Regions from separate parts of the Homo sapiens genome. Here regions 1, 3, 4, 5, 6 and 7 are each reported to be linked to region 2. Evidence: microRNA targets listed by miRTarBase, many of them from high-throughput screens and not tested one by one. Region 2 holds a microRNA gene; each other region holds the end of a gene's coding sequence.

Region 1 (4,693 bases), not on the chromosome of region 2:
TAACTCCCTTGGAACAGAGCAGGGAACCATCAGGAAGCATCAGGGTCTATGTAGCTTCAGATGAATGCAAAGGGCTCTTCTTTGAAGAATGTACCTTCTTCAATCTCTGCCACAGATATTGTGCGACTGGAATCACTATGAGGTGCTCTTCAAGTGTTAGTTCACAGCTAAGTGCTTCTCTGGCTTTGGCTACTCCTTAGGAAAGGAGGAGAGGATATGGGTATTTATGACCGTCTCAGTCCAGGGCCCTTACTGCTTTTGTCTTTTGGCTTTTACTTCTGCTAGTGCACCTTCCTGTGTGTCCTCAATTTGTTTTGCTCCAGAAAGGAGAGTATTCTGTTCTGCCTTCTAGAGAGTCTCAGTTGGATACTACCTTCTTTTCTTTTTAATATGTCTGATTCTTACTAGGATAAGCAAATAGTATTATTGCAATACAGTTAGTGGGAAAAACTGTTGTAAGATTGTTACAAGATAAAGGAAACAAATGTCAGGGAATATTCATGCACATAAGAGTTATTAAACTAGTTGGCACTCCTAGCAATCATAAAAGAGATGTGTCTTTGCTGATTCTTAAGAACTCATTGAAAACCACTTCAATTAAGTAACCTATTAGAATGATAGCTGAAATATCTATGAAAGACATAGGGAGTTCCTTCATATAACCTAAAAGTGGTGCAAACAGAACAAATACTTGAAATAATATGTATTTTAAGTCAAATCAAAGTAAGAACAGACAGCATGGAAACACACCGCTAATTAATGAAAGAACTGTTTGTAAAATAACAAAACTTATACCTTAGAATTAGGTTATGGCTACACACAGTGACAATGAAACACAGTAAAGAAATAATAGGGATGAAACTCAGCATTACTCATCAGTAATGATTTGAAACAACTGTAATTGTTAACCAGTACAGTTTTGACACAGGACTTAATAAGATCTATCCACTATTTATCCTGCAGATGTCCAATATTCTTTAAGTTTTGTATTCATATGTGAACATTTGGGAAATACACTCCAAGGTCATAAGTATTTTCGATGAAAACTTTTGGTGTCTTTGTTATACCACGTTACATTTTTCTTTTTTGATTTGTGTTTTTCTTTTTTTCTAGGAAACTGACTGGACATTCTTTCCACATGGGCTATAGCATGGCGATTTTGAATGGCATCGTAGCTGCTCTTACTGTAGCATGGTGCCTCATGTAAACCCACACTGGAGCGATATTGTTGGCAAAACTTAATCATGATTGTTTTGTAATAACAAGAAGGAGCATCACTGTCTACTCAGAAGACTGAGAAACCTGCTGTTCATTATGTAGTTCAGATATTTATCACAATCATCCTCATTATGGAAGACCTTTTAAAGCATTGTTTTAGAATGTCTGAGTATTAAGATACAGATTAATTGGGAATATCTGAGTATTAAGTACTTTCTTCAGAGTATAAGATGTTTACCTCATCTTTTTACTTTTGTGTGTGTAGTTCTTTCAAGTTGTAGGAAACATTTTAATGGAATTTAAACTCAAAAACTTGAATACAGGACAATGCTTGCCTTTTCATGTATGTACTACATTTTTTGCTAAGAAATACTGATATTTCTGTTTAGTTGAGCTAGAAATACTTCTTATTTATACATTTAGGAAAGCAAATAATGCCTACTACTCCGACTTTTATAGAAGCTACTTTTAAATCAGAATATTTAATTTTTGATATTCATATAATTAATAGAAGTTGCATTTATATTTTTTATGGGGCATAGTTCCTTATGTGTTTTTTTAATGTATTTTCATACTACATACTGAATTTGTATGTTTTTAAAATTGTTACATCTAGACAACTGTAAACATTATTTTTTTAGCTAGTGCAAACCTAGTACCTGCCATTTTTACTAATTTTTGTCTTTAAAAAAAGCAAAAAAGCACATTGACCTAAGTTGAAAATTAAGTAAGTTTATTTTTAACAAAAAATGCCTGAAAAAAGCTAAATTATTTAAGTCATTAAGATATTGAGAAAAAATTTGAAATTTTTACTATTTCTGTTTCCACAATTCCAAATATTTATCTTGGTGTATATATTGTTACTTTAACAGAACTTGCATTATTTTGTTTTTAATAAATATAAACATGAAATTTTTGTATGTGAGAATGATTGAACTAGTTTGTTCTTAATCTCAAAAATTTAGTTACCAAAGTAGAAAAGGTATTTTGATACTAGATATTAAAAACTACATATAGTTAATATAATTTTATAATTTTTGTAATTAAATGTGCTCCTGTAATTGTGATATTTTGTTTTCTAAGTAATTAAGCCTTAATTTTTCCCCTATGTTACTAAAGACTTTTAATGTTTAGAAAGTTACCTCAGTTTTAGAAAGATGGACTACTTACAAAGCTGTTTTCCCTGGCCATAGGAAAACTTACAATAAGAAACCATTAAGTAGTCAAACTGCTTATTCAGGCTAAGTGGGAAATGAATTTGTGCAGTGTGTTCCCTTAATTATCTACTGAATGTTGTTACCGACTAAACAAGGTTTCTAAAAGTCTCGCATTTCTTTTACTATTCAAAACTCTTTGGTTGGAAATGACTAATACTGCTCCAATTTAAATTATCTGAAATGTGTGTGTGTGTGTGTGTATCTAAATATCAATCCCATGGCTTAAGTATTCCTACCAGAGTGGTGGTTGCCATCAGTCTATTTTCACTCCCTGCCTTCCTTCCTGCACGCTTAAACTCTTCACCCTTTGACTCCAAAGAGCCCTTTCATTGCAAAGATGTACACAAGTAACAGAATCAATTTATCTTCTCTCCACCACTCTGTATTCCCACGCACCACCAATGTGAGTAACTCCCTCCAGATTGTTTGTGTCTAATGACTAGGAAAGTTATTAACAGTAGACCCTAGATAGAGATATGTACACCCTAGACAGTCATGTGCCATATAACAACGTTTTGGTCACAACGAACTGTACTTATGATAGTGAATCCCCCCGTAAGATTATACTGCTGCATTTTTTACTTTATTTTTTCTCTGTTTAGATACACAAATATTTACCATTGTGTTACAGTTGCCTGCAATATTCAGTACAGTAACATGCAGTACAGGTTTATAGTCTAGGAGCAATAAGCTATACCATATAGCCTAGGTGTGTAGTAGGCTATACCATCTAGGTTTGTGTAAGTATACTCTGATGTTCACACAATGATGAAATTGCCTAATGACGCTTTTCTCAGAATATATCCTTGTCATTAAGCCAAACATGACTATATATACCTACAAGATATATATTAATATAGATAAATATAGAGAGAGATGTATCCGTAAGATATTTTTGTGGAATCCTAATTCTTCTGGACTGTTACTCCCCTTTTTTGGGAAATGACCCTCCTCTCTCCAGTCTGACACAGGGTCCAAATATAAATCATCTATATGCAGAATGATTAGGCAAGGATAGTCACCTAACTCTGGCTGAGCTAATCCTAATCTCATTTTGCCTGGCTACAATGAGTAGAATAGAGAAATGACTTCAGTGAAGTATGTCTCTTCCCAGGATTTTTCAGCTTGAAATTAAGATGTGACGAAGCTGGGAAAATGCAAGCCCAGGAAATGCTGGCAGCTGTAGTTCAGCCAGGCTCAGTGGGAAAGAATAAGGCTGATAACGGATATTGCTAATGGCGTTACCCTGGTCCCTGAAGCCCAGTGGCAATCCTGCCATTCTTGATACGTGAGTCAATAAATTTCTGTCTTTTGGCCTTTGCAGTTTACATTGGCTTTTGTCATTTGCAACAAAACAAGTCAAAATGAGCTTATCTAGCAGCTGGAATCCATCTCTATTGTGAAACTGACTCAGATGATCTCATCTCCTTATGTGTAGCTTACAGCATTCTATTTAGTTACTTGTGAAAGATAAACGGGGTGTAAGTATTCCTGTGGCTAGTGATTAGTCTCAGGGACTTGAAAAGACATTTTAGAATAAATTAAACTATTATTAATCTTGCTGTTTCATCAAGAAATTATGTCCCCAAATTCAGTTCCACCTTAAGTGTTATCAGAAAGAATATTACTGTAGTTATCAAGATATGATTCTTTAGTTAATACAACGTAATGAGTTTGAACTACAACTGTTACTTAATATCTTAGCATTTCCCGGTTTCCTTACCTGTCGAATGGGAAGAATAATACTTAACAAAATACTTAAACTACAGTGAAAATACTACATGTCAGAATTTGTAGGACCTAGATAAAACACTGTGTAAGGGTAATTTATAACTTCAAATACATTTATCAGGACGAAAGTACTATTGAAAGCTAAAGAGCTAAGAATGCAGATAAAAAGCACAAGCAGCAGAGTAACATCCCCGCCCCCACCACACACACAAGAAAGATTGGAAATAGGAAAGATAAGGATACAATCAATGGAGACTCACACCAAAGAAGTGGGGACAATATCCAATACCAAAAGTCGTTTCCTGGAAAAGATATGATTGACAGACTTCTGGTAAGTCAGATTTAAAAAGAGATTTTCTATATTTGTCTATTTTCCTATTTCTGCCCATGCTCTTGGTTATGTCAGCTGCCAGAAACCATCTGTATTAGGGTTCTGTAGATGGACAGAACTAATAGGATATATGTATACATGAAAGGGAGTTTATTAAGAAGAATTGATTCACACGACCACAAGGTGAAGTCCCACA
Region 2 (4,693 bases):
AGGCCAGTAGAGCACCCAAGCCCAGAGCAATGGGTAAGGGGGTCTGACTTCAACCTGGGGCAGCCGCTCCTTGGAAGGAACCAGGCAGCAACTGTGATTCCAGCATCCCAGCCCAGCCCAGATGCACGGTGGCTGAAAACCACGCCTCAAGCTCCGGGGGAACTCCCTGGCTATTCTTGGAAACACAGAGACTCCTGGCTCCCTGTCAGAGCTGCTCCCCACTCTAAAAAGCCCAGGAGTCACTGCTACAATATTTTTCCTTCTGAAGGAGGTGGCATCTCAGTAATTGCAACGTGATGCTCTCTTGACAGCAGTATTAATCACCTGTCTTCATCTCAGCCCCAGCCATGAGAGAGGAACAGGAGGAAGACAGAGCCAGAGGGCCTGGTGTTGTTCACTGTCCTCATCCAAGGGCACGGGTACAGCAGTCTATTCTGTCTCTTCCTCAAGCTCATTGTCACTTCCGAGAGGGGACTGGGGTCAGGCCTCATTCGGGTTCCCTAGAGTGGAAAGGATTGGTAAGGAGCTGGGTAGCTCTCCTTGGCCACCTCTAAAGGAGCTGCACCACACTGGGCCTGCGAAGAGGAGACCAGGCCCACAGACCCAGGCAGGATGGAGGAGATGGGAGGGGTCAGCAGGGGGCCAAATTCAAGAGTTTCTTCTCAACCCTACCTTTAGCCTGCCTTCCTGACCATCCTGCACATGCCCACCAAGTCCACCTCCCAAAGCCATGGCTTCAGGCTCATGTCACCGCCTCGCTCAAAATATCTTCTATGACTCCCCTGAAGGGAAAAGTCCAGATTCTTTAGCTCTCTGTCTTTGATCTTCCCACATTACCTGCTGGCCCCTCCTGTGGACAGGCTAGACTGCAGCTGGCGTTGATCTAGTCTGTGACTTTTGTACCCCTCGCTTCCCCTCATCCTCCTTTGAATGCTGCCATTTCTCCACCTGCCTCCCCATTCCCAACTGTCCAAATCCTTCCAACTCTTCAAAGGGAAAAGCCCACCTCCTAGAATAGCCTTCCCTGAACCCTCTGAGCTCATCAAGACTTCTTCCTGCTGTGCTCCCATAGAGTCTGATATGGGAGGCTCTGCCAAGGTAATATTGTAAAGTTGAGGCATGTCCCAGACCCCTGGGGGAGGAGGGAAACTGAGATGCCCTGGGAAATTGGGCAGGTGAGACAGGAAGGCCTTGGCATTCATGACGTTTGGACATGTCAAGCACCTGTGCTACACAAGTGAGTTGGGAACTGTAGGCGTCCTTCCAACATGAGCAGATCATGTGAGCCAAGGGCAGGCTTGGAAAAGCATAATGCTGCTTCCCCCTGAGCACATGCCATCATAGGTGCACAGTAAAACTTCTAGATGAATAAATGCTGGGCTAGCAGAGTGACGGCCATAACACGGAGCTGCTCCCACCAAGACGGTGTCAGCCATGGGAGGACTGTTAGCCAGTTAAGCTGTGATTTTAAGCTGGAGTAACAGTTGAAGAGAGTGCAGAAATGGTCTGAATACCTAGCAAGTGGATATACTCAGACAAGCCGGATGGGTCTTCCAAGAATTGGAGCCAGAGAGAGACTACCAGAGAAGCGAAAATTCACCCCAAAGTCAGAGCAAAATGGCTGAGAGCCAAGAAAGAAATCAGGGGGCGGTGTTTAGTGAGCAGTTGTGGGTAGAACTGATTGCTCCCTGAGCTACCGTTCAGATTAGCACCAGCCCTGCTGTTCCACTTGTCTCGCTGTGCAGTTCATATCTCTTCCATTTTGTATGCACTTATTCCCAGCATCCAGAGCTGCACCTGCCACCCTCCACGAATGCAATGTTCACAAGTGAAGTAGTGGGAGGTGGCTGGTAAACTGGAGAGAATGGGATCCTTAGTCTATTGTTGCCATTTGAGAATGGAAACAATATTTCAAAAGAAGACAGAAATTGGAACTTTTATTTGAAATCTCCCTATCATGAAATCCCGGCAACTAACTCATCACACTAGCTGAGCCAAAGCACTTCCAGCTTGCATCCTCTACTCACACCATCTAAAACACCAATGCCAAACAAGCAACCAGAGCTAACAACATTGTTGTGCTTTTTGAAGGCCTCGAAACAGCCCTCTGACCAAGCAGGGCAGGGTTATTACTCCCTCTTTAGGAGTTGAAGAAGCTGGCCCAGAGAGGCTTCTCTATTTGCACAAGATTACTCAGCTAGTTAGTAGCAAAGGCAGGATCAGAACTCACATCTCAACATTCTGCCTCAAAGGCTCCTCTCCCAAACCCCACCTTGTCTCCACAGCCTAATGGACAGCAGAGCCAAAGCAGTTAATAAAATAGTCTGAGACCAACAGTGTTGGCTAGGTGATCATGGTATCCTTAGCAGAGAAATAGATAGGCAGTCTACTACATTCTCACTCAATCTCTTTAAGTAGAAGAGTTCTATATCAAGTGATCAGAAGTCTAACTTTCTTCACCAAAACAGAGAGTTATGGCCCCTGATTAATTCCCAGATTTGAGCCAATTGACAGATGCAGAACCCGTAAATGAAGGAGAGATTTGGTCCTCTTGAGGAAGACCCCTGCCAAAAATTTACATTGTTAATATTTCTCCCAGCTTTCTCCAAACGGACCACTCCTTACCAGGGTAACTATGCATTGGGAAAATAAAATAGACTTTTGGAGGATTACTAGATTAGGTGAGGGCTCTGACCAGGCTCTAATGACACTAATTCCTGGAGACCCAAAACATCACTGTAGCCCCCAGTCAAAGGTGGGACTTCTGGAGGTCAGGCAATCAATGGAGATTTAGCTCAGTTCCTTCTCACAGTGGGTCCAGTGGGTCTGTGAACCCACCCTGTAGTTACCTCTCTGGTTCCAGAACACATAATTGGAATAGGCATATTCAGCAACTTGCAGAATCGCCACTGCACAGGACTGGCTAGATTCTTTTAAGCTGTTAAGAATATGTATCCAAAACTTGTTAATAAGGCAGCAAGCCCACCTCAGGCTTTGATTCTCCAGGAGAATCTGTTTTGTTTGTTTACTATTTACCATCCACAAAGGGCCTAAACCTATGAGATAGATGCTAACAGTTAGAAAAGATGGTAACATGTGAGTGATTTCCATCCAGTAGAGAAGATTGTCCAAAGCCTTATGATTTTGTTGCCCTGTGAGACATTAAGTTTTGCATCTAATTTAGCAATCTTATTCCAGATTTCTTCCACGTATATATGTATATATATAATTTTTCCTGTATCCTCTTTTATTTATTATTTATTTATTTATTTTGAGATGGAATCTTGCTCTGTCACCCAGGCTGGAGTGCAGTGGCACAATCTTGGCTCACTGCTACCTCTGCTTCCGGGTTCAAGTGATTCTCCTGCCTCAGCCTCCCAAGTAACTGGGATTACAGGCACCTGCTACCACGCCCGGCTAATTTTGTATTTTTAGTAGAGATGGGGTTTTACCATGTCGGCCAGGCTGGTCTCAAACTCCTGACCTTAAGTGATCCACTGGCCTCAGCCTCCCAAAGTGCTGGGATTATAGGCCTGTATCCTCTCTTAAACCCAGCTTTGTCATTCTGCTAGTTGTCTCATTCATGAGTTAAATGAATCTTTGACATGTAATTGTTTGAGAAACAGATTTTTAATCTTTTGAAAAATATTACTTTAACAGTGTACATGACTCAAAAAAATAAACATTCACAGGAAAATTCCATAGCTGGGATGGATTAGGAAGCTGAGTGAGCTCCATTGTCCCATTTCTTCTCCCCTCCTCTGGCCCCCTCCAGCCCAACACATTCAACTCACACCCCAGCCTGCCTGCCAGCAGCCCAAGAGGCCTGCAGGAAAGCCTGCACGCTTCTTCTTTTAATGGGGATCTGTGCGTCAAGTTCGGCCGTTGTGGTTGTAGTACTTACTGCTTGCAAAGTAAGAGGTGGCTGACCCCAAATCATATTGGGACACAGGCATGTTTCAGGTAATTGAGAGCATGACAACCTCTCCAGGAGTCAGATAAAAGCCAGGAGAAAGGGCAATGTTGTCTGACAGCCAAGGGGCCGGTGGATCCTTTATGTAAATAACTTGAAAAATAAATACACAAGAAAAGCAGCAACTGTGAAGCTGTGGTTTCCAGAAGATGGGGAAAGCTTGTCTGAAGTTTAGCCCTTGCTTTCCATGTTGAGGAGCAAGGGCTAGGGCCACTGGTGTGCATGCGTGTGTGTGTGTGTGTGTGTGTGTGTGTGTGTGTGCGCGCGCGCGCGCGCGCACATTGGGGGACAGGAAATGAGACACTGCTGATTCAGATCCACCCTCACCTCCCCAGGGTCCTACTCAAACCACACATCTTCTGGAATTCTTCCCTGACCACTGACCACTGACCACTGGATATCCCAGTAGTATGGCCCTTCTCTGAACCAGTCCCCATCTTTTTTTTTTTTTTTTCTGAGATAAGGTCTTGCTTTGTTATCCAGGCTGGAGTGCAGTGGTGCAATCTCAGCTCACTGCTACCTCCTCCTCCTGGGTTCAAGCAATTCTCCTGCCTCAGCCTCTTGAGTAGCTGGGATCACAGGTTTCTGCCACCATGTCCAGCTAATTTTTGTATTTTTTTTTAGTAGAGACGGGGTTTCACCATGTTGGCCAGGCTGGTCTCAAACTCCTGAACTCAGGTGATCTACCCGCCTCGGCCTCCCAAAGCGCTAGGATTTCAG
Region 3 (4,693 bases), not on the chromosome of region 2:
CCGCCCCTTCACTCTGCAGAAGGGCCTGCAGAAACTGATCCTGAGGTGACACCACAGCTCAGCTCCCCAGCACCGCTGTGTCTGACACTGCAGGAGAGGCTGCTGGCCTTCGAGCGGGACCGTGTGACCATCCCAGCAGCCCAGGTGGCTTTGGCCAAACAGCTGGCTGGCGACATCGCCCTGGAGCTGCAGGCCTACTTTCGGAGCAAGTTCCCGGAACTGCCCTTTGGGGCATTCGTGCCTGGGGGGCCGCTCTACGACGGGCTGCAGGCGGGGGCTGCGGACCATGTGCGTCTCCTGGTGCCACTGGTGCTGGAGCCGGGCCTGTGGAGCCTGGTGCCGGGCGTGGACACTGTGGCGAGGGACCCTCGCTGCTGGGCCGTGCGCAGGACGCAGCTTGAGTTCTGCCCCCGTGGGAGCAGCCCCTGGGACCGCTTCCTGGTCGGGGGCTACCTCTCCTCCCGCGTCCTGCTGGAGCTACTCCGCAAGGCGCTGGCTGCTTCTGTCAACTGGCCGGCCATTGGCAGCCTTCTCGGGTGCCTGATCCGGCCCAGCATGGCCTCGGAGGAGCTGCTGCTCGAGGTGCAGCACGAACGCCTGGAGCTCACTGTGGCTGTGCTTGTGGCAGTCCCTGGGGTCGATGCTGACGACCGCCTCCTCTTGGCCTGGCCCCTGGAGGGGCTGGCGGGGAACCTCTGGCTGCAGGACCTGTATCCAGTGGAGGCTGCTAGGCTGCGAGCCCTGGACGACCATGACGCTGGGACTCGCCGGCGGCTGCTGCTGCTGCTGTGTGCTGTCTGCCGTGGTTGCTCGGCTCTGGGGCAGCTAGGCCGGGGTCACCTGACCCAGGTGGTCCTGCGTCTGGGGGAGGACAACGTGGATTGGACGGAGGAGGCCTTGGGTGAGCGCTTCCTGCAAGCCCTGGAGCTGCTCATCGGCAGCCTGGAGCAGGCCAGCCTGCCCTGCCACTTCAACCCCAGCGTGAACCTCTTCAGCAGCTTGCGTGAGGAGGAGATTGACGACATTGGCTATGCGCTATACAGTGGCCTACAGGAGCCCGAGGGGCTGCTCTAGGTGGGTGGAAACGGGTGGTTGCCATGTTTTCTAATGCTGGGGAGCTGCACCCACCTCCCTTCCAGGGATTTGAATAGTGGTTTTTCTCTAGCTTTTTGCCAGAACAAAGGAGGGTACATTACTTAAACCCAGGGCATCAGGATGTGCTTGGGCTATGGTGGCCATAAACCCTGAGCCCAGAGAGCTTGGGTCACTGTCACCTGAGTGCAGCTGGGCTGCCTCAGGCAGCTTGGAGTGCCAGCCATTCCTGCAAGCACCGTTTCAGCTCTTGGGGCCAACCCCAGGACCTTTGGCTCTGTCCATCACCAGCAACCAATCCACCAACAGAATGTGGTTTCTGCCATCCTGGGCAGAAGCTGAAGGCCAGCTTCACATTTCTGCTGAGAGAAGGTGACTTAACGCCTTTTCCGGCCCTAGCTCCAGGCGTTTTGAGGCGTCTGGTGCCTGATGGTAGGTATGGTGTGTTTGTTCTGTCCCCCAGGGGCTGGAGTCACCTGGTGCCCCTGAAGGACAGATTTTTGGCTGTTAAAGGATGGCATTTTCCTGCTGTCTTCTGTGCGTTTAGTTTTCTTGCTGAGCGGGAGCTCAGTATGACTTGCCACCCACCTGATACCTCAGGGCAAGGCCCTTTTTCCCTCCAGCCAGGTGAGTGTTTTCTTCAGGCAGCTGAGGGTCCTGGGGGAGCTGAGGCTCTGTGCTGCACCCCCAGCCCACAGCTGGGGCATCTCACTGGAGCTGTTCCAGGCCCCACTGGAGAGCAGAGGACCTGATCCCCCACTAGAGAGGTCCGGTGTGCACAGCCGGCCTCCCAGTGTGCCAAAATGAACTGCTCTCAGCTGATGGCTGTATTCTGACTTTGAAGCCTGTTAAGAGGTAGCAAGGGGGCTAGAGGAGGGAGATTCCACCTCCCCTCCCAAGTGACCCTCCTCCTGCCTCTGGTATCCTTCCTTTTGAAACGAAGCTCAGCTTCGAAGATGTGAACAAGAATAAAAGGAAAAAATTCTAATGTATATATAACTCAGGCTGGATAAGGGAGTCTTGGTGCTTTCATACGCAGCTGTTGAGGGTTTTCTGTAAGTCCTGTGGCTTGTCCTGGCACTTTGGCAAGAGTGCTTGAGGTCAATTGGAGGTGGTAGAGTTTACTTTAAAAAGTAGCATCTTGGCCGGGTGTGGTGGCTCGCATCTGTAATCCCAGCACATCGGGAGGCCGAGGCGGGCGGATCACGAGGTCAAGAGATCGAGACCATCCTGACCAACATGATGAAACCCCAACTCTACTAAAAAGACAAAAATTAGCTGGGCGTGGTGGCACGCACCTATAGTCCCAGCTACTCGGGAGGCCGAGGCAGGAGAATTGCTTGAACCCGGGAGGTAGAGGTTGCAATGAGCTGAAATTGCACCACTGCACTCCAGACTGGCGACAGAGCAAGACTCTGTCTCAAAAAAATAAATAAATAAGCATCTTGGCCCCGCGCTGTGGCTCACGCCTATAATCCCAGCACTTTGGGAAGCCGAGGCCGGTAGATCACCTGAGGTTGGGAATTCAAGACCAGGCTGACCAACGTGGAGAAACTCCATCTCTGGTAAAAATTCAAAAAAATTAGCTGGGCATGGTGGCACATGCCTGTAATCCCAGCTACTTGGGAGGCTGAGGCAGGAGAATTGCTTGAACCCGGGAGGCGGAGGTTGTGGTGAGCTGAGATCGTGCCAGTGCACTCCAGCCTAGGCAACAAGAGTGAAACTCTGTCTCAAAATAAAATAAAATAAAATAATAATAGTAATAATAAATTAGCATCTCAGTCTGTTTGGGCTGTGATAACAAAATGCCATAGACTAGGTGGCTTATAAACATCAGAAATTTATGTCTTACCATTTTGGAGGCTAGAAATCCAAGAGTGAGTCACAGATTCCATGTTTGGTTGAGAGCCCACATCCTGGTTCATAGGTGTCCCCATCTAGCTGTCCTCATGTGGAGGAAGGGGGGAAATGCTCTCCTAGGGTCTCTTATAAGGAAACTAAGCCCACCCATGGGGTGGGGGCCCACATTCATGATCGAATCACTTCCCAAAGACCCCATCTCCTGTTAGCAGTGCCTTGGGGGTTAGGATTTCAGCATACAAGTTGAAGGGGACACAGACTTTCTGTCCGTGACAAGTAAGGTAAGTGGAAGGAAAAGATGAAAAGCTTGGTGTTGCTTTAGTAATGGGAACCAGCCAGTTTGGGATGTTTCTTCCCGCAAGGCTGAACTGCTGAGCCCTGCACCATACTTTCTGTAATTAGTGGGCTGTTGACAGCCCTTCAGCCATGCTCATCATTTTTTAGAAACCTGTGTTTTTTTTCTTTTGAGAGTGAGTATCACTCTGTCGCCCAGGCTGGAGTGCAGTGGTGCGATCTCGGCTCACTGCAACCTCTGCCTCCCGGGTTAAAGCAATTCTTCTGCCTCAGCCTCCCGAGTAGCTGGGACTACAAGTGCGCGCTACCACGCTCGGCTAATTTTTGTATTTTTAGTAGAGATGGATTTTCACCATGTTGGCCAGGATGGTCTTGATCTCTTGACCTTGTGATCTGCCTGCCTTGGCCTCCCAAAGTGCTGGGATTACAGGCATGGGCCACCGCACCCGGCCAGAAATGTGTGTTCTCTACCTCCCTTGCACCTCTTTGTGGCTGCACAAGTGGGGAGGAAACTTGCCCCGCCTTGTGCAGGTGAGAGGCCAGGGCATCTTAACCCTCTCACCCGCAAGAGCCAAAGCCAGGGCTCACTTCCTATCACCAGATGACACATGTGGGCTGGGGAGGGCTCTGGTCTGCGTGCAGGGCTGCTTCCAGCCTAGCTGTGCCACTCGCACCCTGCTGGTCCTTCCCCGACTTACGTCCTGAGGGGACTCCCCTACCCCTTCCAGCTGTGACTGCAGGACCCAAGGGAAGCAGGACTGTGCCAAGCAAATGGAATAGTGGTGTAGGCCTCTAGGTGTTGGGTGTAGGGCAAGAGGCGGGCACGAGGGCTCCTTGTAGAGGATATTATAAGGGTCCAAGGTGGGAGACACTTGGCTGAGGTCCATTCCAATCACTTGGCTGAGGTCCATTCCAATCACTTGATGCCTTGATGCTGGAGAGCTTTGAGCAGTTTCCTTGGCGGTGTTGGGGCAGCAAGGGAACAGTCTGGGGCAGAGCCTGTGCCTCAGTCTTCTCATCTCTTAACTGGGGAGGGTCATGTAATACCCAACCCCAGGTGCTTGTGACGATTAACTGGGGTGGGCAGTGCTTAACATAATGCCTGGGAACGAGGACTGGTGGGCCTAGCTGTGCCCCACCCTCCAGCCACATCCAAGCCCCAGCACAGCAAGGTGCTCCCAGATGCCACTCCAGCCCCTGGTCAGAGCGCAGCTGTCCAGGAAGCAAGCTCAGTCTAGAGTGCCACTCCTTCGACGACCAGACCCCAACACAAGCCTGATGTAGAAGCCACTTGCTTCAGGTAGCTCTAAATGTACTGTCTCATACCATGGCTTAAAAAAAAAAAATCCAGGATGAGTTAAAAGTGTTCGTGGTTTCATCACCTAGCCAAGGTTAATGTCTGGGTCTTCCGTTTCTAGCCAGAGAACTGGAAACAAATCACTGTTTT
Region 4 (4,629 bases), not on the chromosome of region 2:
TAAAGGCAAGAACATGTCTGGTTGTTCATTGCTACGTTCTCAGTGCCCAGAGCAGTGCTTAACAAAGAGCATTATATAATATGTATTGAATTGAATCTGATGAACCTTGACATAAGTGTGGGGAACAAATCTCCAATTGATGATCATAAGCAAAAAAGCTTTTGTGAAATGCATCTTTTTGGCTGGGTTTCCTTGGGAAAACAACTCTCCTTTAGCTTACTGAATGCAAACTGGTACAACAGAGCTTCTCTGAAATGCTCAAAGTACTAAGCAGTGAATCACGTCAACCAGACAGCTCTGCTCTTGGATCTCAGCTCTCAAAACTCCCACTAATGAAAAAATACTCCATAGAAAAAGATATTAATCTATAGGCTGTAAGAAAGTTCTGAATATCTCTATCTTTACTAAATTGCTCCCTGAAATGAAATGCTATTATTTTTCCTCCAATGTTTATTCATTGTAGTGTCTTTTAAAATCTTATTTTGTTCTTAACCCACCATTTCTTATTTCTATAAAAATTCTGAGCATCCTTAAAAGCTCAGTAGAAGTTCTGCCTCACCAATGAAAACAATTAACCTCTTCTTACCCTAAACATCTTCTTTGAATTTCCAGAGCCTTTTATATCATGCACCTCATTGTGAATGGCTGCCTAAAAAGCTAGCCCTTTCAAGAAAGAAACCATGGTGTGATTTTTACTCTTCCTTATGTATAACGGATGCTTGCTAGCTACTATTTACATTTACACTAATCTATTACAGAATACTATATGAAGAACAATAAACCTTTGTTAATTTAGGTAGCTTTAACTTGGAGTAAATAATATTATTTAGCCATGCAACCATTTCTTATCCTTAAAAAAAGGCTTTGGTCAACAAATTAAACAATAAGTATGTATTGAGATTCTATAATAGATCAGGAACTGTCCTAGCTATTGAGGATGCAAAGATGAATAAGATAGCCTTTCCCCAGAAAAATGAGCAATTGTGGAGCACCTTAGACTATAGAAGAATAATCCTTCTAGTAAACACCCCTTTGTGTAATCATTATGCCAATTACAATGAATGCTCACTATTTCATGAAAGAGAATTGCGTAGAGCATATTCTTCACAATTCTTTATCCAGTTTGTCTTTTAAAAAACATTTTTATTACTTCTTCAGGTACACATGGAAACATATGCCATAATTCAGATGTAACTAACTTGGATTGTTCTAATTAACCCAAATTACAAAAATGTTCTGTACTTAATATTCTAAATGATTATTGAAATTATTATTCTTACTATTGGGTGAAAATATGGAGATTTTTATGTCAAGTTTTCTGATTGGCATACTATGATTATCTATTACCCCAAACCTCAAAGGGTGTTAGATCAGTGAACAATGTTTGGTATGCTGCTAAATTAAAAAGTAATAATAATAACCGTAAGCTTCACATGTAGTTGTTTTTGTTATACCATTATGAAACCAAGGGGTGATGCAAGGTTTCCAAATAGGAGTGGTTTTCTAAGTTTTGAGGCATGTCATTCCCAGAGAGCCTACAATCCGTGGAGGTACTCAGTCAGTCATTGTCCAGCTATTTTGGCAATGATCTGATGGCTAATGGAATTAACTAGCATGCCACCCTCTGCAGTTATTTATAAAACCAGAGCAATGAATAAGGTTTTTGCTCTCCCAAACCAACCTCCATTTCCAGTGAATGGCTGTGGTGGTTGGCAACCTGAGCCCACCAAATCAAACCCTGATGAAATGGGTCAGTGAGCAACCAGTGTAACTGTCCACCAGGAAACAGTCTGGAGTAGGGGCAAGAGCAAGAGGTTTCAAGTCCTGGCTCTGCTGCTTCCCAGCCACTTAAGAATGGGCAGGTCACAAAGTTTATCTTTTACTTCTTCATTTGCAAAACAATACTTCCTGGCCTGTCCACCTTTCATGGTTATTGTGAGGCTCCAGTGAGATAATATATGAAAGTTCTTGTAAATGGCATAGTCCTAGCCTCTTTATTAGTCTAAGTTGTCAGTTGGTGCATGACAACTCAAAACCACTCTCCCCATGCTGCAGTGATGCATTCAAGGAGGATAGTACATACTTATTGTTCAATATACCAAGCAAAATCCAGAGGCACTCTCACCTCAATCCCTTAAGATATGTCTTCTTTCCTGATTGTCCAAGTGCCTCGTGGTACTGCTGAATGACAGTGCTAATTGCACAGACCCTAAGGTCAGATTGCCAGCTCCCCACTTGGTCAAATATTTAACATTTTATGAGCTCGTTACTGGATCTATAAAATGAGGATTCAAATGTTACCTATCTCACAGAATTGTGGGAGGATAAGATAATCACGTAAAACACATGATGTAGTATCAGGTGGCACACAGTAACAATGACAATTACTATTAGCCTCACACAGGTTTCTGCAGCTAATATGAAGGCAAAAATCCCATTAGAGTCAGAAGATCTGGTTTCAAGTCCTCGTTCCCTCTGTGACAGGCTGGATAATGCTACAAATTTCATTCAATCTCTCTGGAATGCAGTTACTACTTATAAAAGGATGCTAATATTCACTTCATGGGGCCTATATAAAAATCACATAGAGTAATATATATATAACTTCTATACTCACTGTAATGCACGATGAAAATGCACAAGGCTGTTATTTGATTTTTCTGTATGAACAAACATGCAGAAAACAATTGCAAAGATTTTATTTAGCGGCTTTCTGTGCTTGGCACTTAGAAACAGAGTTCCGTGCATAAGGGCAAATTTTTGTACACCTTTTCTTCATACATATTTTACATACCCTTTTATTGCCCCCTTTTTCATATTCATAATATTGGATTCCCCACTAGGCACATAAATACATTTATCTACAACACCTCAAAACCAGAAACTTTAATAATATCTGTATTATTTTACTTGGTATTATTTGCATTTCCACACCATTTAAAAATTTTAGCTTGCACCAAGCTTCACTTGCTTTCTTACCATTAAAAGATTTGAAGGGAAAGGGAAAGATGAAGGACAAAACCCAAAACTTCAAAATGCAATGTACTATTTGATAAAAATGGAGATCTAAGGGCAGGTAGAAGGGTATAGAAGACCCATCTGCAATTCCCTGGGACATGAGGGGATATTTCCTGCCACAGGGATAGCGGGCAGGCATTCTAGGTCAGGTGTCTGGATCCGGCACCTGGAGGCCAGGCCTCTATTTGTTGCCTCTGCTCTTGGTATCATCTTCCGAGATTATAAAACTATTCCTTCTTCACACCCTTTTATTTTCCTTCCCCTACCAGGCTGCATGCTGTGGAATCAGCACTTCCCACGTAGTGCACCTCTCTTCTGGATCACAGTGGTCAAAGCTGTGGGCTCAGGATGCATTCCTTGCTCTGTCCCTCTGACCAATGCCCTGACCATGCTCAGTGTGCCAGAGAGGTTTACTCCTCAGTAATGCCATGATTCTTTCCATAACCTGTAGTGGGGCGGGCGGGGTTTGGGGGGACAAACCAAAAACACGTCTCCTTGGTGAATTAAAATTCTCATCATTGCTCACACTTTCTCTGTCAGTCTTGCTCTCCACCTCGTTCCTGTTCTCTATTCTTTCTGTTTGTCTTTCTCCTGTTCAGCTTCTCTTTCTCCCTCTTTCCACGGGCACCACTGGGAATATCAATGATAGCATACAAGTGAAGAGAGCCAAAGTTCAAAAGCAATCTTTTTCCGGAAGCCAAGTCCAGTTGTACTGATGTCTTTCCACTCTCATCCATTGGGAGGGTCTCCAGGATACATGGTTCATTCCAGAAGCAGAGGAAGCTGCAGGGGAGAAAGACTGGCAGCTACTGCTGGCCCACTCCATCTAGAGTTGTACACAGACAAATTCTTGGTGAAAGCACCCATTCTGGGCCTCCCTCCACAGAGTTCACCCAGTTCAGAGTCAGTGTGCATGTATGATTGCATGTGTATGAATTGTGTATGAATATGTATGTGTGTGTGCACGTATGTATAGGTAGGTCTGTCTGTATGTGGGTGTGTATGTGTAACTTTTCATGGCTGCCACACACTAGCATCTCCCTTAACATTATGACGAAGTGATTATTCAGTCTCTTCAAAGGCCACTCTGGAACAGACAATGCTTTATAAAACTAAGGTCTGGGAAGGCAGAAGAATGGCCACTGAGTTGCGGATGATTCTATCGCAAGTATCCTTCACTGGCTTAAAGGTATCTCTTGTTCTTGGGTATATGTCTTCGGCCAGAAAAAAAAAAAAAAAAAAAACACGGTTCCTGTTTTTCAAAGACACTGGACTCCCAAAGAGGAGGATCTGACCACGGAGACTCTGGGGCCTTGATTGCCAAATGCTCCGTGGTGTTTGGACTGGCCTTTAAACCATGTGCACGGACATCTGGGAGGAGGAGCCTGGAACTGCCCCATACTGCCGGCCATCACAAGTGTTGGTTGCCTGTTGGTTATTGGGTGAAGGGCTAATCATGTGCATGCTGTGCTCCATCCCTGACGGCAGGTACTGCCTCTCTCCAAAGGCCCCGTTGGAAGGAGAAGAACAGAGTAAAGTGCTTTGAGAGGCGCTCAGTTTTTCCGGGCTTGCAGCTAGCCTAGGGGAAGTGGGGAAATTGTATCCATACAG
Region 5 (4,693 bases), not on the chromosome of region 2:
TATTCTATTTAATCTCCACACCAAGCATGTGAAGGAGGCACCATTGTCATCCCCATCTTACAGATGAGGAAGATGATCAAGGCTTGTAACTTGCCCAAGATCACATGGCTATAGGTGTGGATCCTATATATCCAGATTCAAACTCCAGCTTTAGCCCACTAAGCTACGGTGGCCAACCCCAGCCCAAAGTGTTGGGACCTGCGTGTAGAAGACCCCTTCAGCCCTTGTAAAGTTAGGATCTAGCATGTCTAAGGGGACAGAGACCCAATCCAGGTGACACAGGAGGTAAGATCACAGTGGAACAGGCCATCCCTGCTTTTCCACCACCACCAGCACTGTGACCTCAGACCAGCTCTACTCTATGAGTTTCTTGTGACAGTGATGGCAGCCTGGGGCCAGACAAGGGATGCGTGTCTTGTGTCCTGGACACAAGACAGGCAGGCCCAGAGGGGACAAGCTATATGAAGAGAGGCTTCAGCTGTCGGGGGTCCTGAATGCCATGGAAGGAGAGCAGGTGGGCAGAAGCAGGGAGCCCCTGGAGCAGACAGAGGGGGGATTCCTGCTGAGGCAAGGGGCTCTAGGACTCCAGGGTTTATGCTCCAAAGAACAGAATTTACCAGGACAAAATAAACAAGACCAGTCAGGACCGATGCCCCATCCCTGCTGGGGTCTGGCAAAGCTCTCACCTCCAAATTTGTATCTGTTTTGAATTCAAAGCCAAACAAACACATCAACAGTGAACTCCAACACCTCCCAGAGCAGGGCCTGAAAGGGACCCAGAAAGTCTGGCCAGAAATCTAGAGTCCAAGGGGAGGAGATCTGTAAACTAAACCGCTGGCCATGCTCTGGGGCCCTAAACCACTGCAGGCATCAGGGCTGTTCCAGGAGAGGGCACAGCAAAGGGGGTTGGGAGGGGTCTCCAGTTCCAATCAGAAATGAGGCTGCAGTCACTTCAGGTAGACCTGTCAGCAGCAGCTGTGCAACTGGGCTAGGGAGACAAGGATCGTGGTTTAGCCAGGAGAATCATCTGGGGCCCCAGCCAAGACACAGGTGTTGGATTTCAGCACCGCTCTGCAAATACTCATCTCAGTGACGATGAGGTGAGTGGGAGCTTGGCTGAGCCCAGCCCGGCCTGCCATCCTGGCAAGCCAGGGCAGCATGGAGGTAGCACAGAGTGGCACCCAGCCAGCGTGAATGCATAAGAATCTGCACGTGACACAGAAGAAAGTCTCTTCATGAAGTAGGTTTCACTGGTCCCAGCCAAACCCTGTGGCAGGTGGCCCTTTCTGCACCTGCTGAACATGCCATTCACCTTGACCCAGGTAGTGGCCTCACCCTCCTCTTGCTCAAACTGGAAACCTCAGCATCCTGAAATGCCTCCTCCCCAAATCCATTGCACACATGTGTGCCTGTGTATGCGTGTGTGTGCACGTGTATGAACCCAGCCCCCAGCTGCCCACTCCATTGCCCCTAAACAGGCCCCTCCTTGGTGTCACCTGGCACATCTCCACTGGAAGCCAAATGGATATTTCTAAACTGAAATCTGGTCCCACCTCAGAACCCCTTCCACAGTTCCCTTAAAGTTCCTTTCCTCATTTACATCAGGATCTTCACAATGGGGACCCCTGGTCACCTCCCAACCCAACAAACGCTCCAAATGAGCCGCCACTGCAGAAACTCATTATGGCCCAGGCAGGACAGGCACATCCAAGTATCTGACCAGGCTGTTCCATCTGCCAGGCAGGTCCTGCCCTCTCTCCACCCACCTGTCTAACCCCTGCATCCTCAAGACCCTACTTAGCTATGGCCCTGTGTGAAAGGTCCCTCCCCATGCACCCACAGCCATTTGTTCTCTCTCATGTGGCCCTAACAGGCTGGGGTTCCTGGAGACTCCATGGGGAGCCAGGCATGAAGATGGCATATACCCATGTGTCACTCCCCAGAACGTGAGCTGCCTGCCCTGGCACCATACACAAAGGGACTGACAGCCCCAGAATCCCAAGGGGTGCACCTATGCATATGGGAAAGGCATGTTTACGGGTGAGAATGGTCCATCGTTGGGCTTCAGGAGGCATCTGACCTGACGCACGCCTTTGTCACTTTGTCCTTGTGGCCTGTTGAAATGCCACTCCTGCTTTACAAATTCACCAACTGTTGCATGAGTCATTTCCACCTCAATGAGTACCAGGTCCTTGAGGATGGGGAAAAGTAAGCCACCACTGTGGGGGTCCTGGGCTCCTAGGTGCAGAAGAGGCTCCAGAAACAGGCCAGGTCGTGGGCCATGACCCCACACTAGCCCTCTGGTCCCTCACACGGGTGGATTGGGGGGCTGTGTCACGGGATCTTAGGATCTTCAAGACAAAGACCCAGGACAAGAACACAAGCCCACTCCCATTCTTCACAGGCCTCGAGAAATCTTTGGGCAATGAAGTCAGACTGTGCCAAAGCCCATGTTTCTGTCTCTCCAAGGCCCCTGGCCCCCACTGCCTAGCCTAGGTCAGGTCATGTGGGCAAGCGAGCCCCCACAGCCTCACAGCCCCTACCCCAGGGCCAGGGCAAACTCCTGCCCTGTCCCCCTCCATTCCTGCCCTCCCTCCTTCCACAAACTGCACCAGCTGGGGAGAAATCCTTCAGCCGACAGAATGAGGTGAAAATAGTGCAATTTTAGGCTTTGTAACTGAGATTAGGGCAGGTGGCCACCCATTCTCCCCTTCCTCAGGCCAGCCTCTGACACAATGACCCTGGAAGCCTGGCAGCCCTCCGTAATGGTCAGCATCCTCCCCTGCCATCCCCAACCCACACCATGAGCTCAGCCAGGGCAGGGGCAGCCTCTGTCTCATTCACCACAGAATCCACAGAACCCAGCACAGAGTATGAGCTCAGTAAATTCTCCTCATACATGACTGCACTGACTGGACCGGGCACATGCTACAGGGCAACACCCACGGCTCAGCTGGCCCTGGCTTTGGATCTCAGTCCCACCTCTTCAAGCTGTCCAGCGTGGGGCACATCGGCTACAGCCTTGCCAAATGAAGGCTTGCCAGGATGAAGAGGTGAAGACAGGACAAGCACAGTATGTGGCACACAGGAGGCCTCTGATAACATCAGTCCCCTTCCCTAAAGACCTGGGCAGTCCCTGTCACTGGGGCCTCACATTTCATGTCGAGAATTCACTATTTCTCAGCACTGATTTCAAATAAAGCCACCAAGAGTCTGACGAGGCAACATGGCAGAGTTCTGAGGGTGGAGTGAACAAAAGGTCATTTTTTACAGAAAACTCAGGATCTCCCCTCTGCACAGTGCTAAAGCCCTGTCTCAAAGTTCAGAGCCCGGAAGGTGCAGAGATGTGGCCCTTGGAAATCAAGCCCTTAAGAAAACAGCCCAGCTGTGTAGGGCCGGAAGCCCCAGGCTGCAGTCCTGTGGTCTGGAGGCAGCCAATATTCAGGTGAGAGATGTGCCCAGCTGCCGGTGGGTCCAGGGGGCACGGAGCCCCCACCGTCCCTGGCCCAGGTCTAGGACTAAGTCAGTGGGCCCAGGCCAGCTCCAAGGGCCACAGCTCCTCACTCGGGGGCCGCGCCGGAGCAGCCGCAGCAGCTGGGGCGCCGCAGGGACTGCATGACAGCCCGCAGTGGCCCCCTCCGGCCCTCCACAGACAGGCTGTCCTCGCTGGCGGGCGCCCGCTGCAGCTGCTCAAACTGCATCTCCAGGTGCTTCTGGATGGCCACACCGAGCACCTCCAGGTCCACCGCAGCTCCGTACACCTCCCATGTCATGCCCTCAGCATCCCATCGCACATCCCGCACAGGGGACGGCACCTCCTCCAGGCTGGACCCCAGAGTTACCTCTGGGAACACATGCAGGGCTGCAGGCGCTTCCAGGGACGGACTGGTGGCCACAGCCTTGCAGGCCGCCACTGGGGCCGCCTGCACACCAGCATCCTGGGCTGACAGCGGGGATGCCTCTGCAGGGGCCAAGTCATTGGCTGAGGTCATGGTCCACACATCTTTGGTCCTAGAGCCAGGCTCTGGGACTAACCCAGCGGGACCCCAAAGGTGGGCACAGCAATGGGAATGCCCAGGGAGCCCCCCAGACAACCTACAGTGGATCTTCACCCCATGCTGAGCCTGCAGCCCAGACTCGCTCACTGACGCCACTAGTTTGGGAAAGGCCAGGATCCCTGTGGCAGGTAGGGCATGGCAGCAGCCACCAGCCCTCACCTCCCTCATGCCACAGAGTAGAGCAGCTGGGGGCAGAGCATGGCAGGTGGTGGTAGCCAGCTGTTCAGCAGCTTTGGGCTCAGCCTGGGCACTGCTGCTGTGGGCAGTTGTGTCCCCCAGGTCTAGTGGTGGCACTGACAACTGACTCGCCCCCAGCATCCAGGCTGAGTTAGAAGTCTCATCCTCAGGAGCCAGGTCCCTTTCCAGGCCTGCAGGGGCCTGGCCACCCTGGCCAGAAGTACCACCTGGCTGCAGCTGAGCCCTGTGGACAGGGCTGCTGCCAAGGGCTGAGCAGCTGAGACTGGCCTTCCGAGCACCACTGTGTCCCCGCATCTGGGTGCTACGGACCAGGTCTGAATGGCTCCTCTGCATAGCAGCAGCACTAGGGGCCCGCAGGCGACACAGGTCACTGCCGCCCATGGTGGACACATTGCCCACAGTGCTGCTCCACCAGTGGCCTCCAGCACTGGGTCGCG
Region 6 (3,000 bases), not on the chromosome of region 2:
GGAGATGGGAACTCTGTGTGTGGATGTCCCCTCCCATACACCCAGGAACTTCTGAGAAATGCTGCTGTTCACTAATACAATTCCACCCTCATCTCCCAGGCTGTCCCTGGAGAGGAGCTCTCCACTTGAGAAGGACCTCAGAGCCCTGGCTCTTGTCATCCAAATTCACCTTTCCTCTGGGGCTCTTATAGGAAAGGTGAGAGTTGACACTGCTCACCTGTGATCCTCTGGCATAACCACCTTGCAAAGATAACCCAAGAGAAATGGAAGCCTCAGGGATATACCACCAGATGAACTGACGGCAAGGTGGAGGTTTTCGCATTCCCATGGCAGGTTTCCTTATCAGCCCCCATCTCCCACCACATCAGAAAAGGAGTAAATAGATCTTTCCTGATTTCAGGCCCAGAACTAGGCTCAAGAAGAAAGAAGTGTACTCTCACGACTGGCTAAGACTTGCTGGACTGACACCTATGGCTGGAAGATGACTTGTTTTGCTCCATGTCTCCTCATTCCTACACCTATTTTCTGCTGCAGGATGAGGCTAGGGTTAGCATTCTAGACACCCAGTTGAGCTCAGGCGTAGAGAAGAGGAGGATGGGATAAGAACTGGGGCCATCCCCATGTCATGGTGGGTGAGAGCTGGGGCCATCCCCGTGGTCATGGAGGGTGAGAGCTGGGGGTTATCCCCATGGTCATGGAGGGTGAGGGCTGGTCGGGGGAGGCATCCCCAAGTCATGGTGGGTGAGAGCTCGGAGCATCCCCATGTCATGGTGGGTGAGATCTGGGGGTATCCCTGTGTCATGGTGGGTGAGGGCGGGTGGTCATCCACATGGTCATAGTGGGTGAGAGCTGGGGGTATCCCTACATCATGGTGGGTGAGAGCTGGGAGCATCCCCATGTCATGGTGGGCGAGATCTGGGGGGTATCCCCACGTCATGGTGGATGAGAGCTGGGGGAATCACCATGTCATGGTGGGTGAGATCTTGGGGGATCACCTGTCATGGTGGGTGAGAGCTGGGGGGATCACCTGTCATGGTGGGTGAGAGTTGGGATTCATCCCCATGTCATGGTGGGCTGAGCCCACATGGAAGCCTGTGCTTGGACAGCGTATGCCCTTTTCTCTGTTTTTCCACAATGAACAATTAAACTGTAAATGTTAAAAATATCAGTAATTTGTGAAATAAATTTTATTCTCATTTGAGCAACATAAATCACAATTTTGTTTGTTTACCATGCCTGTCAAAATCACAAACATTTTCTTATCAGTTTAAATAATGAAAACTGATTTCTGCTAAAATCATCTGACAATTAGCTTGTCAACATTCAAATATTTTTCACCTTAAATCCACTACCTTCGTGGTGTGGTCCACTGAAAAGTTGGGCAAAACCCAACCTGTGATTGAGGCTATAGAGAAACATGAGGGTCATGCACAATAGCTTTTTTTCCCCACACTTAGTAGATGGACTGTTTCTCAGTCTGACAGCCACCAAAGCTTTATGTCCTGATGAATATTTTCGTCCTCTCATCCTCTCTGATGGCCTCATTTCTCCAAATTTCTTCTTCTCCTCCTTTTTTTTTTTTTTTTTTTTTTTTTTTGAGACAGAGTTTCGCTTTTGTCACCGAGGCTGGGATTACAAGCATGAGCCACCGAGCCCGGTCAAGGCTTTCATATTTTTAAAACTTTGAAGTACAGTGAGAAACATAATTTAGTAAGCAACTCAGTATGCACACACGGAATGGAAAAAGCTCTGTTCTATGTTATTTGTTCTATTTTGTTCAAGTCTAGCTCAATTTTTCAAAATGCTGGTCACAGCTCGCCAACTTGTTTTAATAACCAACTTATGCCTTTCCACTGCAATCTGGAGAGCTCAGCCTCTCAGGCTGCTGGTCCCCCTGTCAATCACGATACTTTGGCTACTTTGCTTTCTTCAATCAACAAGGCTTTATCAAGAACTTATGGCTCTTTTAATTATCTGACTTCCTGGTCAATCAGCTTTGTTTGTGGTTTTAAATGACCACAGGATAGTAGAAGTGAACATAATTTCCTGCCTGTGTAAAAGGATGACATCAAGAGGAAAAGAAAGCAGCTCACTGGGTGAAGGACCTTGAGAAAGAGATGAACATTTCCTCTCTTGAGACACAGGACAAACAAGGTCACGCCTGAGCTCGGCAAACAAGGACTTCGGTGCCTGCCTACGGCGCCATTGCGCCCTCTAGTGGCTGCTGAGGAACCGCTGTCCAGCCCGAAGCTCACAGAGCCCCGTTCAGGCTGCCGCAACCTACCTAGGCGGCCAGAATGGAGACTTACAGGTGGGCGGGCATCCCGGGGTGCACACATTACCTTCTCGGGGCTCTCCAACTTAAGGCCAAGGATATCTTTCTTCTTTTTCGGCTGCTGAGAAGGTGGAGATAGTGCCATTTTCGAATGTGTTCCTAACTCTTGGGCTTCTGAGACTGTCGCAGTCTGTCCAAGGGTGGTGAGTGGGGATCAGCAGGCCCTGTTTACTATGTGCTCGCAAGAGGGGACTGCGGTCATAGGGATTTCAGAGAGGTGGCCCTGGCGTCGGGCCCCTGGACTCCAGTCACAACTCAACCACTTGCTGAGGGAGTATGCTAGCTAAATCCCTCTTGCAAGTCAAAAACCCTGTGCCCCAGTTTCTTCCTCTGTAAAAAAGGGATAATACAATGTTGGTATCCTTATTGCCCACTACAAAAAGGGCCAGAGAATATGAACAGGACATTTACAAAGTAAGGATTAATTCGTACAAAAGCCCGGTGAACGGAAAATGTGTGTAACATCACAAATGATCTGATGCCGCCAGGTAGGGGGGCATTTACCATGTGCCAGACAGACCCTAAGCTAAGCTCTTTAAGTACATTATCTCATTAACAGTCAATTATCCTATATCCTCTCCATTTTAAAATGAAGAAAGTAAGTGTGTAAGAGATTAGATAACCCACCCAGGGGTAACACAGTTGTTAGACATGGCCCCAGGGAA
Region 7 (4,367 bases), not on the chromosome of region 2:
TATTTTACATTTGTAAAAATCTCTTTAATGTCTGGCTTAATAAAGCTAGCTTGGTTATATATTCTTCTACATTCAAGCTGTAACAATATGTTGTTTTGGCTAAAGCACAAGAGGAAAATCTGGCCTCACTCTTATACACAGTTGGGAAAAGAAGGAAAGTTTCCATAACCATTTCAGCTATCGTAACTGTTCTTCCTTGATAAGACACCAAAACTCAAGAAATGGCAGATTCTTAAAGGTTAGTTGCAGTGTGGAATCTGAAACCTTATATATTAACTTTTCATATTCTGTTGTGTTAAAATTCACTAGTCTATCTTTAAATGGATCTTTATGCATGACTTTGCAATATCATGCATTGATTATTTGTAAATTATTGATTCATGGGTTTACGCAGATTTTTAAAATGTTGACATATTTTATTAAACAATATTTTTTAAGCCATATTTGTTAATATCACCACCAATCTCATCAGAAACATCTTTAAGTAGTGAGAAGCTGTGGCACACGTAAGTTTTCCAAAATTTTAATTTTCTCTTGAAATTCCAATTTCCACTGTCAATATTATTTTCTTTGATGGGATAGGCTCATTTTGTTTATTTTTGAGAAAATTTCTACCAAATACCCAAGTCTGAATAATCACAGTGTGCCTTTCAGTCATTCTTTCAAGGAAAATGATGACCCACTAAAAAAAAAATGTTTAACTTCACTCACAACTCATGCAATTACATAATGGCTTTTCCACAGGACAACTGCCTTTCCATCAGTATGCACCAGAAATGCTGCCTATGTTCTTACACTGACTATTAAACAGATGTGTGCTTGAGGTTTAAAATTTAGTAAACTAATGATTTTATTGCTTCATCAAGGTCACTGGCTTTTGCTTTTTTTTTTTTTTTTTTTTTTACTGTAAGCTTATGGCAGTGAAGAACATGACCTACCTGTACAGCTTGGTGTCACCACCTTGATTTGTGCTCAGGCACTAACAGTTTCACGTGACCACCATAGATTTCTGTACCAATATGTAAATAATACAGTGAAAAAGGCAAATAACATCTTAGTATTAGTACAAAAATAGCTTGACTTCATAGGCCCCTTGAAGGGTCCCAGGGACCCCCAGGAATCCATGGACCACACCTTGAAAACCACCACATGACAGGGATATCAACATAAGGAATGATGGTGAGCATTAAACATATCTCTACTCACAGAACTAAGACTAACAAGGGAGCAAGTAGTCTATGCAATGGTACAGGATCAACTAATATAGACATAGTTCAACTAGAAAGCGGGGGAGAACATAGGTAAAAAGGGAGAACACAGGTAATAGGGAGAATGTAGGTAAAAAGAATTTCAACCGTTTTCAGTAGCCATTTTGGTGGTTGTGTATGAGTGTTATTATCCTTAGACTGCTGTCTATGTTAACTCAGGAAAAGCAAATAAGTATGGACATTCTAATTGTGTCTGTCCCTGTGTCCTTGAAAACCAGAGTTCTTGGTATAAAAGAAAGGAGATGCAGAAGTAATATAGAGAAGACTGATTTTTTTTTAAGATGGAGTATTGCTCTGTCACCAGGCCGCAGTGCAGTGGTACAATCTTGGCTCACTGTAACCTCCACCTCCCAAGTTCAAGCGCTTCTCTTGCCTCAGCCTCCCGAGTAGCTGGGACTACAGGCGCGTGCCACCACACCCAGCTAATTTTTGTATTTTTAGTAGAGACGGGGTTTCACCGTGTTGCCCAGGATGGTCTCAATCTCTTGACCTCGTGATTCGCCCGCCTCGGCCTCTCAAAGTGCTGGGATTACAGGCGTGAGCCACCGTGCCTGGATGACTGATTTTTTTAAATGTATACATGTATAAATGTTTTATTGCCATTGAACAGGCTGGACACAATGACCATTCCTATCTATTTAGGCTCCCCCACTGCCCCTCTCCCTGCTTTCTTTCCATGTCCTGACCGAAAAATCACAGAATGCCTCTGTGACCCAGCCAGCTGCAGGTTTTTCCCAGCAGGCTCGAACCCAAGCCAAGGCCTTGAACACTCCCAGGCACTGATAAACGTATCTAGGTTGTTTCTCTAAACACTGAAACTTTGTCCCAGCCCTGAGCCAGGTTCCTTAAACCTTCATATAAGCTCCATACCCTGACCCCCTCGCTGCAGACATACCTAGGCAGAACATCCCTTTTCTCTTGCTGTCTGCAAGGACTCCTGAAGCCCTCTGTAGGTAAATTCCCTAAACAAATGTTTTGGACTGATCACCCTGGCATTTAGTGCTTCTTTCTTTGAATCCTAACCCACACCATCTCAGAATGGTTTCAGGAACTTCCTTGTGGTAACTCCCTTGACGCCACTTTTGAGGTGACTCCAGCAGCGGGTTCAGTGGGACAAAACACCCTAACGCTGGATTATAGTCTTAAATGTCATTTCCCACTAAACTAAACCAGGGATTTCTGGAAAAATGGCTACCTCCAGGTCTGGCCAAGAAATGAACAAGATGAACCAGAAACATGTTGTCATCCCAGATAACAAAGAAATTATCAAAAGAAATTTGCGTCAAAAGAACTCAGTTTCATTTTTAGCCACTTGAAGAAGTTTTCACTCACCAAAAATGTAGGATATAAGCTTTAACAAGCATAAAAATTGCAATAGAGTAAAACCTATCAAACATTTAAATCCTTCTGTTTATAATTATTTAAAGAATGAAAAGTAAAACCTGATTGGCCATCTGTAGGTTTTATTAATAGTAGGAAACCAATTTGCTAACTTGAAAACTGGTAAATAAAAGGAGAGTCAAACACTGATCCTGCCTTTCCACTGTACCACTAAGTAGCCCACTAGTAAGTGGAGGGAAGTGTCTCTTCACTAGTAAATGAAGGGAACTGTCTCTTTGTAGCATTAATAAAGCATATAAATGAAGAAAAAATGACAGAATACCACCATTTAGCAATCCCCAATAAATTAACAGACCTAAGCAATTAGTATCAATGGTTGCTAACATCACAAAAAGAAACAGCTGGAAATTATGTCTCTCATGGTGAAAGGCCACAACACCACGTATAGATTTTCCAAAGGAAAAGATTGAACCAGAGTCTGATCCAGCCTCTGCATCCAGATGCCAATTTGCGGGAGGCACAGAAGGCAGAGGATGTGTTACACTGCACCATGTGTACGCAGCCAGCAAAATCCAGAGTGTGGGAAACTCTACAGGTCAAATGGATTGAGCTTTTCAACAGATTAATCATAAGGGGGAAAAAAAGGCTGATGGGGGAGAAACCAGTGAAGTATGAGAGACGTAAAAGACAACTAAGCTGTGGCGTCCAGGAACACATACCTGGGGGACTAGACTACAAAGACATGAAAGAGGTTACAATAAAATCAGGATATGGTCACTTTCGAGGGGAAGGAGAGGCTTTGATTGGCCTGACGTACAGAGACTTCCGCTGGAGCTGGCAAAGTCCTGTTCCTTGACTTGATTACAGGGGTTTTTCTTAAATAATTCACTAAAATGTACATTTTTTGTATCTCCATTTTATTTGACAATAAAAGGTTTTTAAAAACAGTGAAAAGGAAACAGTGACTACCTGAGCATTTGTCTTCTGAAGACTGTGGAGACTGCAGTTGGAAGACAGAAAGCTTTGGAGATCATGACTTATAGGAGTAGGGCTGGACCACAGAAAAGTAAATGATTTGGGGCTGGAAGGAGTAAGGTCTCAGGGGAGTTTCTGGACAATGCCCTTGGCAATGGGGATTAATGATGTACACGTAGAAGGGAGAAGGGCAGATGGGTGGGAGATGCATGATCTCAGAACACAGAGCTCCAGAATCAGTTCGGGCTCCTCCAAGGATCAGGGAAGAGAGTTATTCCCAGAACATTGACCTCATGAATGTCCTTTACCTCACCCAGGGCCCAGACTACTCATCACTACTTCAGGCTCCAGAGAGAGAAGCTTCAGTGAGGACCTTAGCATGACTGAGGGAGCAGAACAGCTCTTGAGACCTGGAGGCACAGTGATGAAGGTCTCAGGAGGCAGCCTCACCACCCCCCACAGCCGTTCCAGAGACTCAGGGGACAGTCCCATCCAGACAGCAGCAACCTTACTCCTCCCTACCCCCATGTCATCTCCCTCTGGCCAAAGAACCGGGAGAATGATCTGCCACTCAAAGACAAGGAAAAAGAGACATTACCTCATTACCAGACATCTGCGTCCTCACATATCCTGGAAAGAAATCGAGAAAAGAATGGATTGCCCCAATTAGGACCCAATATGATTATCCCGAGGGAAGAACAAATGGCTGGCAAGGTCAGCACTCTCTCTGCTTATCCCATTTCTAGCTTCAGAAAAAAATTATCCCGGTGATCCCTGAGAGGC

Evidence for each region. Region 2 holds the annotated microRNA hsa-miR-4301 (UCCCACUACUUCACUUGUGA, at 1,823-1,842, opposite strand). A microRNA usually pairs through its seed, bases 2 to 8, with sites in the 3' UTR of a target mRNA and lowers its output. Matches are read on the target gene's strand: a 7mer-m8 pairs with bases 2 to 8, a 7mer-A1 pairs with bases 2 to 7 and ends in A, and an 8mer does both.
Region 1: the mRNA of ARL6IP6 is a reported target of hsa-miR-4301. Seed matches in the 3' UTR shown: 7mer-A1 at 2,463-2,469 and 7mer-A1 at 3,635-3,641.
Region 3: the mRNA of MIEF2 is a reported target of hsa-miR-4301. The part of its 3' UTR that is shown has no 7-base or 8-base seed match.
Region 4: miRTarBase lists TBX15 as a target of hsa-miR-4301. Seed matches in the 3' UTR shown: 7mer-m8 at 2,836-2,842.
Region 5: miRTarBase lists GPRIN2 as a target of hsa-miR-4301. Seed matches in the 3' UTR shown: 7mer-m8 at 155-161.
Region 6: the mRNA of IL1RL2 is a reported target of hsa-miR-4301. Seed matches in the 3' UTR shown: 7mer-m8 at 837-843.
Region 7: miRTarBase lists HLA-DOB as a target of hsa-miR-4301. The part of its 3' UTR that is shown has no 7-base or 8-base seed match.

What each region holds. Positions count from the first base shown.
Region 1 is chr2:152,758,634-152,763,326 of GRCh38, forward strand. It overlaps ARL6IP6 (ARF like GTPase 6 interacting protein 6), which reads left to right. Exons shown (of 4, transcript NM_152522.7): 4 at 1,114-3,763. The coding sequence ends at 1,207. Among named protein-coding and RNA genes, the nearest start is that of ARL6IP6, 42 kb to the left of the region's middle.
Region 2 is chr11:113,448,237-113,452,929 of GRCh38, forward strand. MIR4301 (microRNA 4301) reads right to left here and starts at 1,852; the gene lies at 1,787-1,852. The region is part of intron 1 of DRD2 (dopamine receptor D2); the gene reads right to left.
Region 3 is chr17:18,263,691-18,268,383 of GRCh38, forward strand. MIEF2 (mitochondrial elongation factor 2) reads left to right here. Exons shown (of 4, transcript NM_139162.4): 4 at 20-2,862. The coding sequence ends at 1,074. Among named protein-coding and RNA genes, the nearest start is that of MIEF2, 5.4 kb to the left of the region's middle. RefSeq lists an enhancer at 3,613-4,206.
Region 4 is chr1:118,880,364-118,884,992 of GRCh38, forward strand. TBX15 (T-box transcription factor 15) reads right to left here. Exons shown (of 8, transcript NM_001330677.2): 8 at 2,684-4,629. The coding sequence ends at 4,369. Among named protein-coding and RNA genes, the nearest start is that of TBX15, 110 kb to the right of the region's middle.
Region 5 is chr10:46,545,800-46,550,492 of GRCh38, forward strand. It overlaps GPRIN2 (G protein regulated inducer of neurite outgrowth 2), which reads right to left. Exons shown (of 3, transcript NM_001385282.1): 3 at 1-4,693. The coding sequence ends at 3,561. Among named protein-coding and RNA genes, the nearest start is that of GPRIN2, 8.5 kb to the right of the region's middle.
Region 6 is chr2:102,238,792-102,241,791 of GRCh38, forward strand. It overlaps IL1RL2 (interleukin 1 receptor like 2), which reads left to right. Exons shown (of 12, transcript NM_003854.4): 12 at 401-1,211. The coding sequence ends at 450. Among named protein-coding and RNA genes, the nearest start is that of IL1RL2, 53 kb to the left of the region's middle. RefSeq lists enhancers at 1-123, 1,978-2,272 and a silencer at 2,212-2,271.
Region 7 is chr6:32,809,258-32,813,624 of GRCh38, forward strand. It overlaps HLA-DOB (major histocompatibility complex, class II, DO beta), which reads right to left. Exons shown (of 6, transcript NM_002120.4): 5 at 4,183-4,214; 6 at 3,506-3,994. The coding sequence ends at 3,959. Among named protein-coding and RNA genes, the nearest start is that of HLA-DOB, 5.6 kb to the right of the region's middle.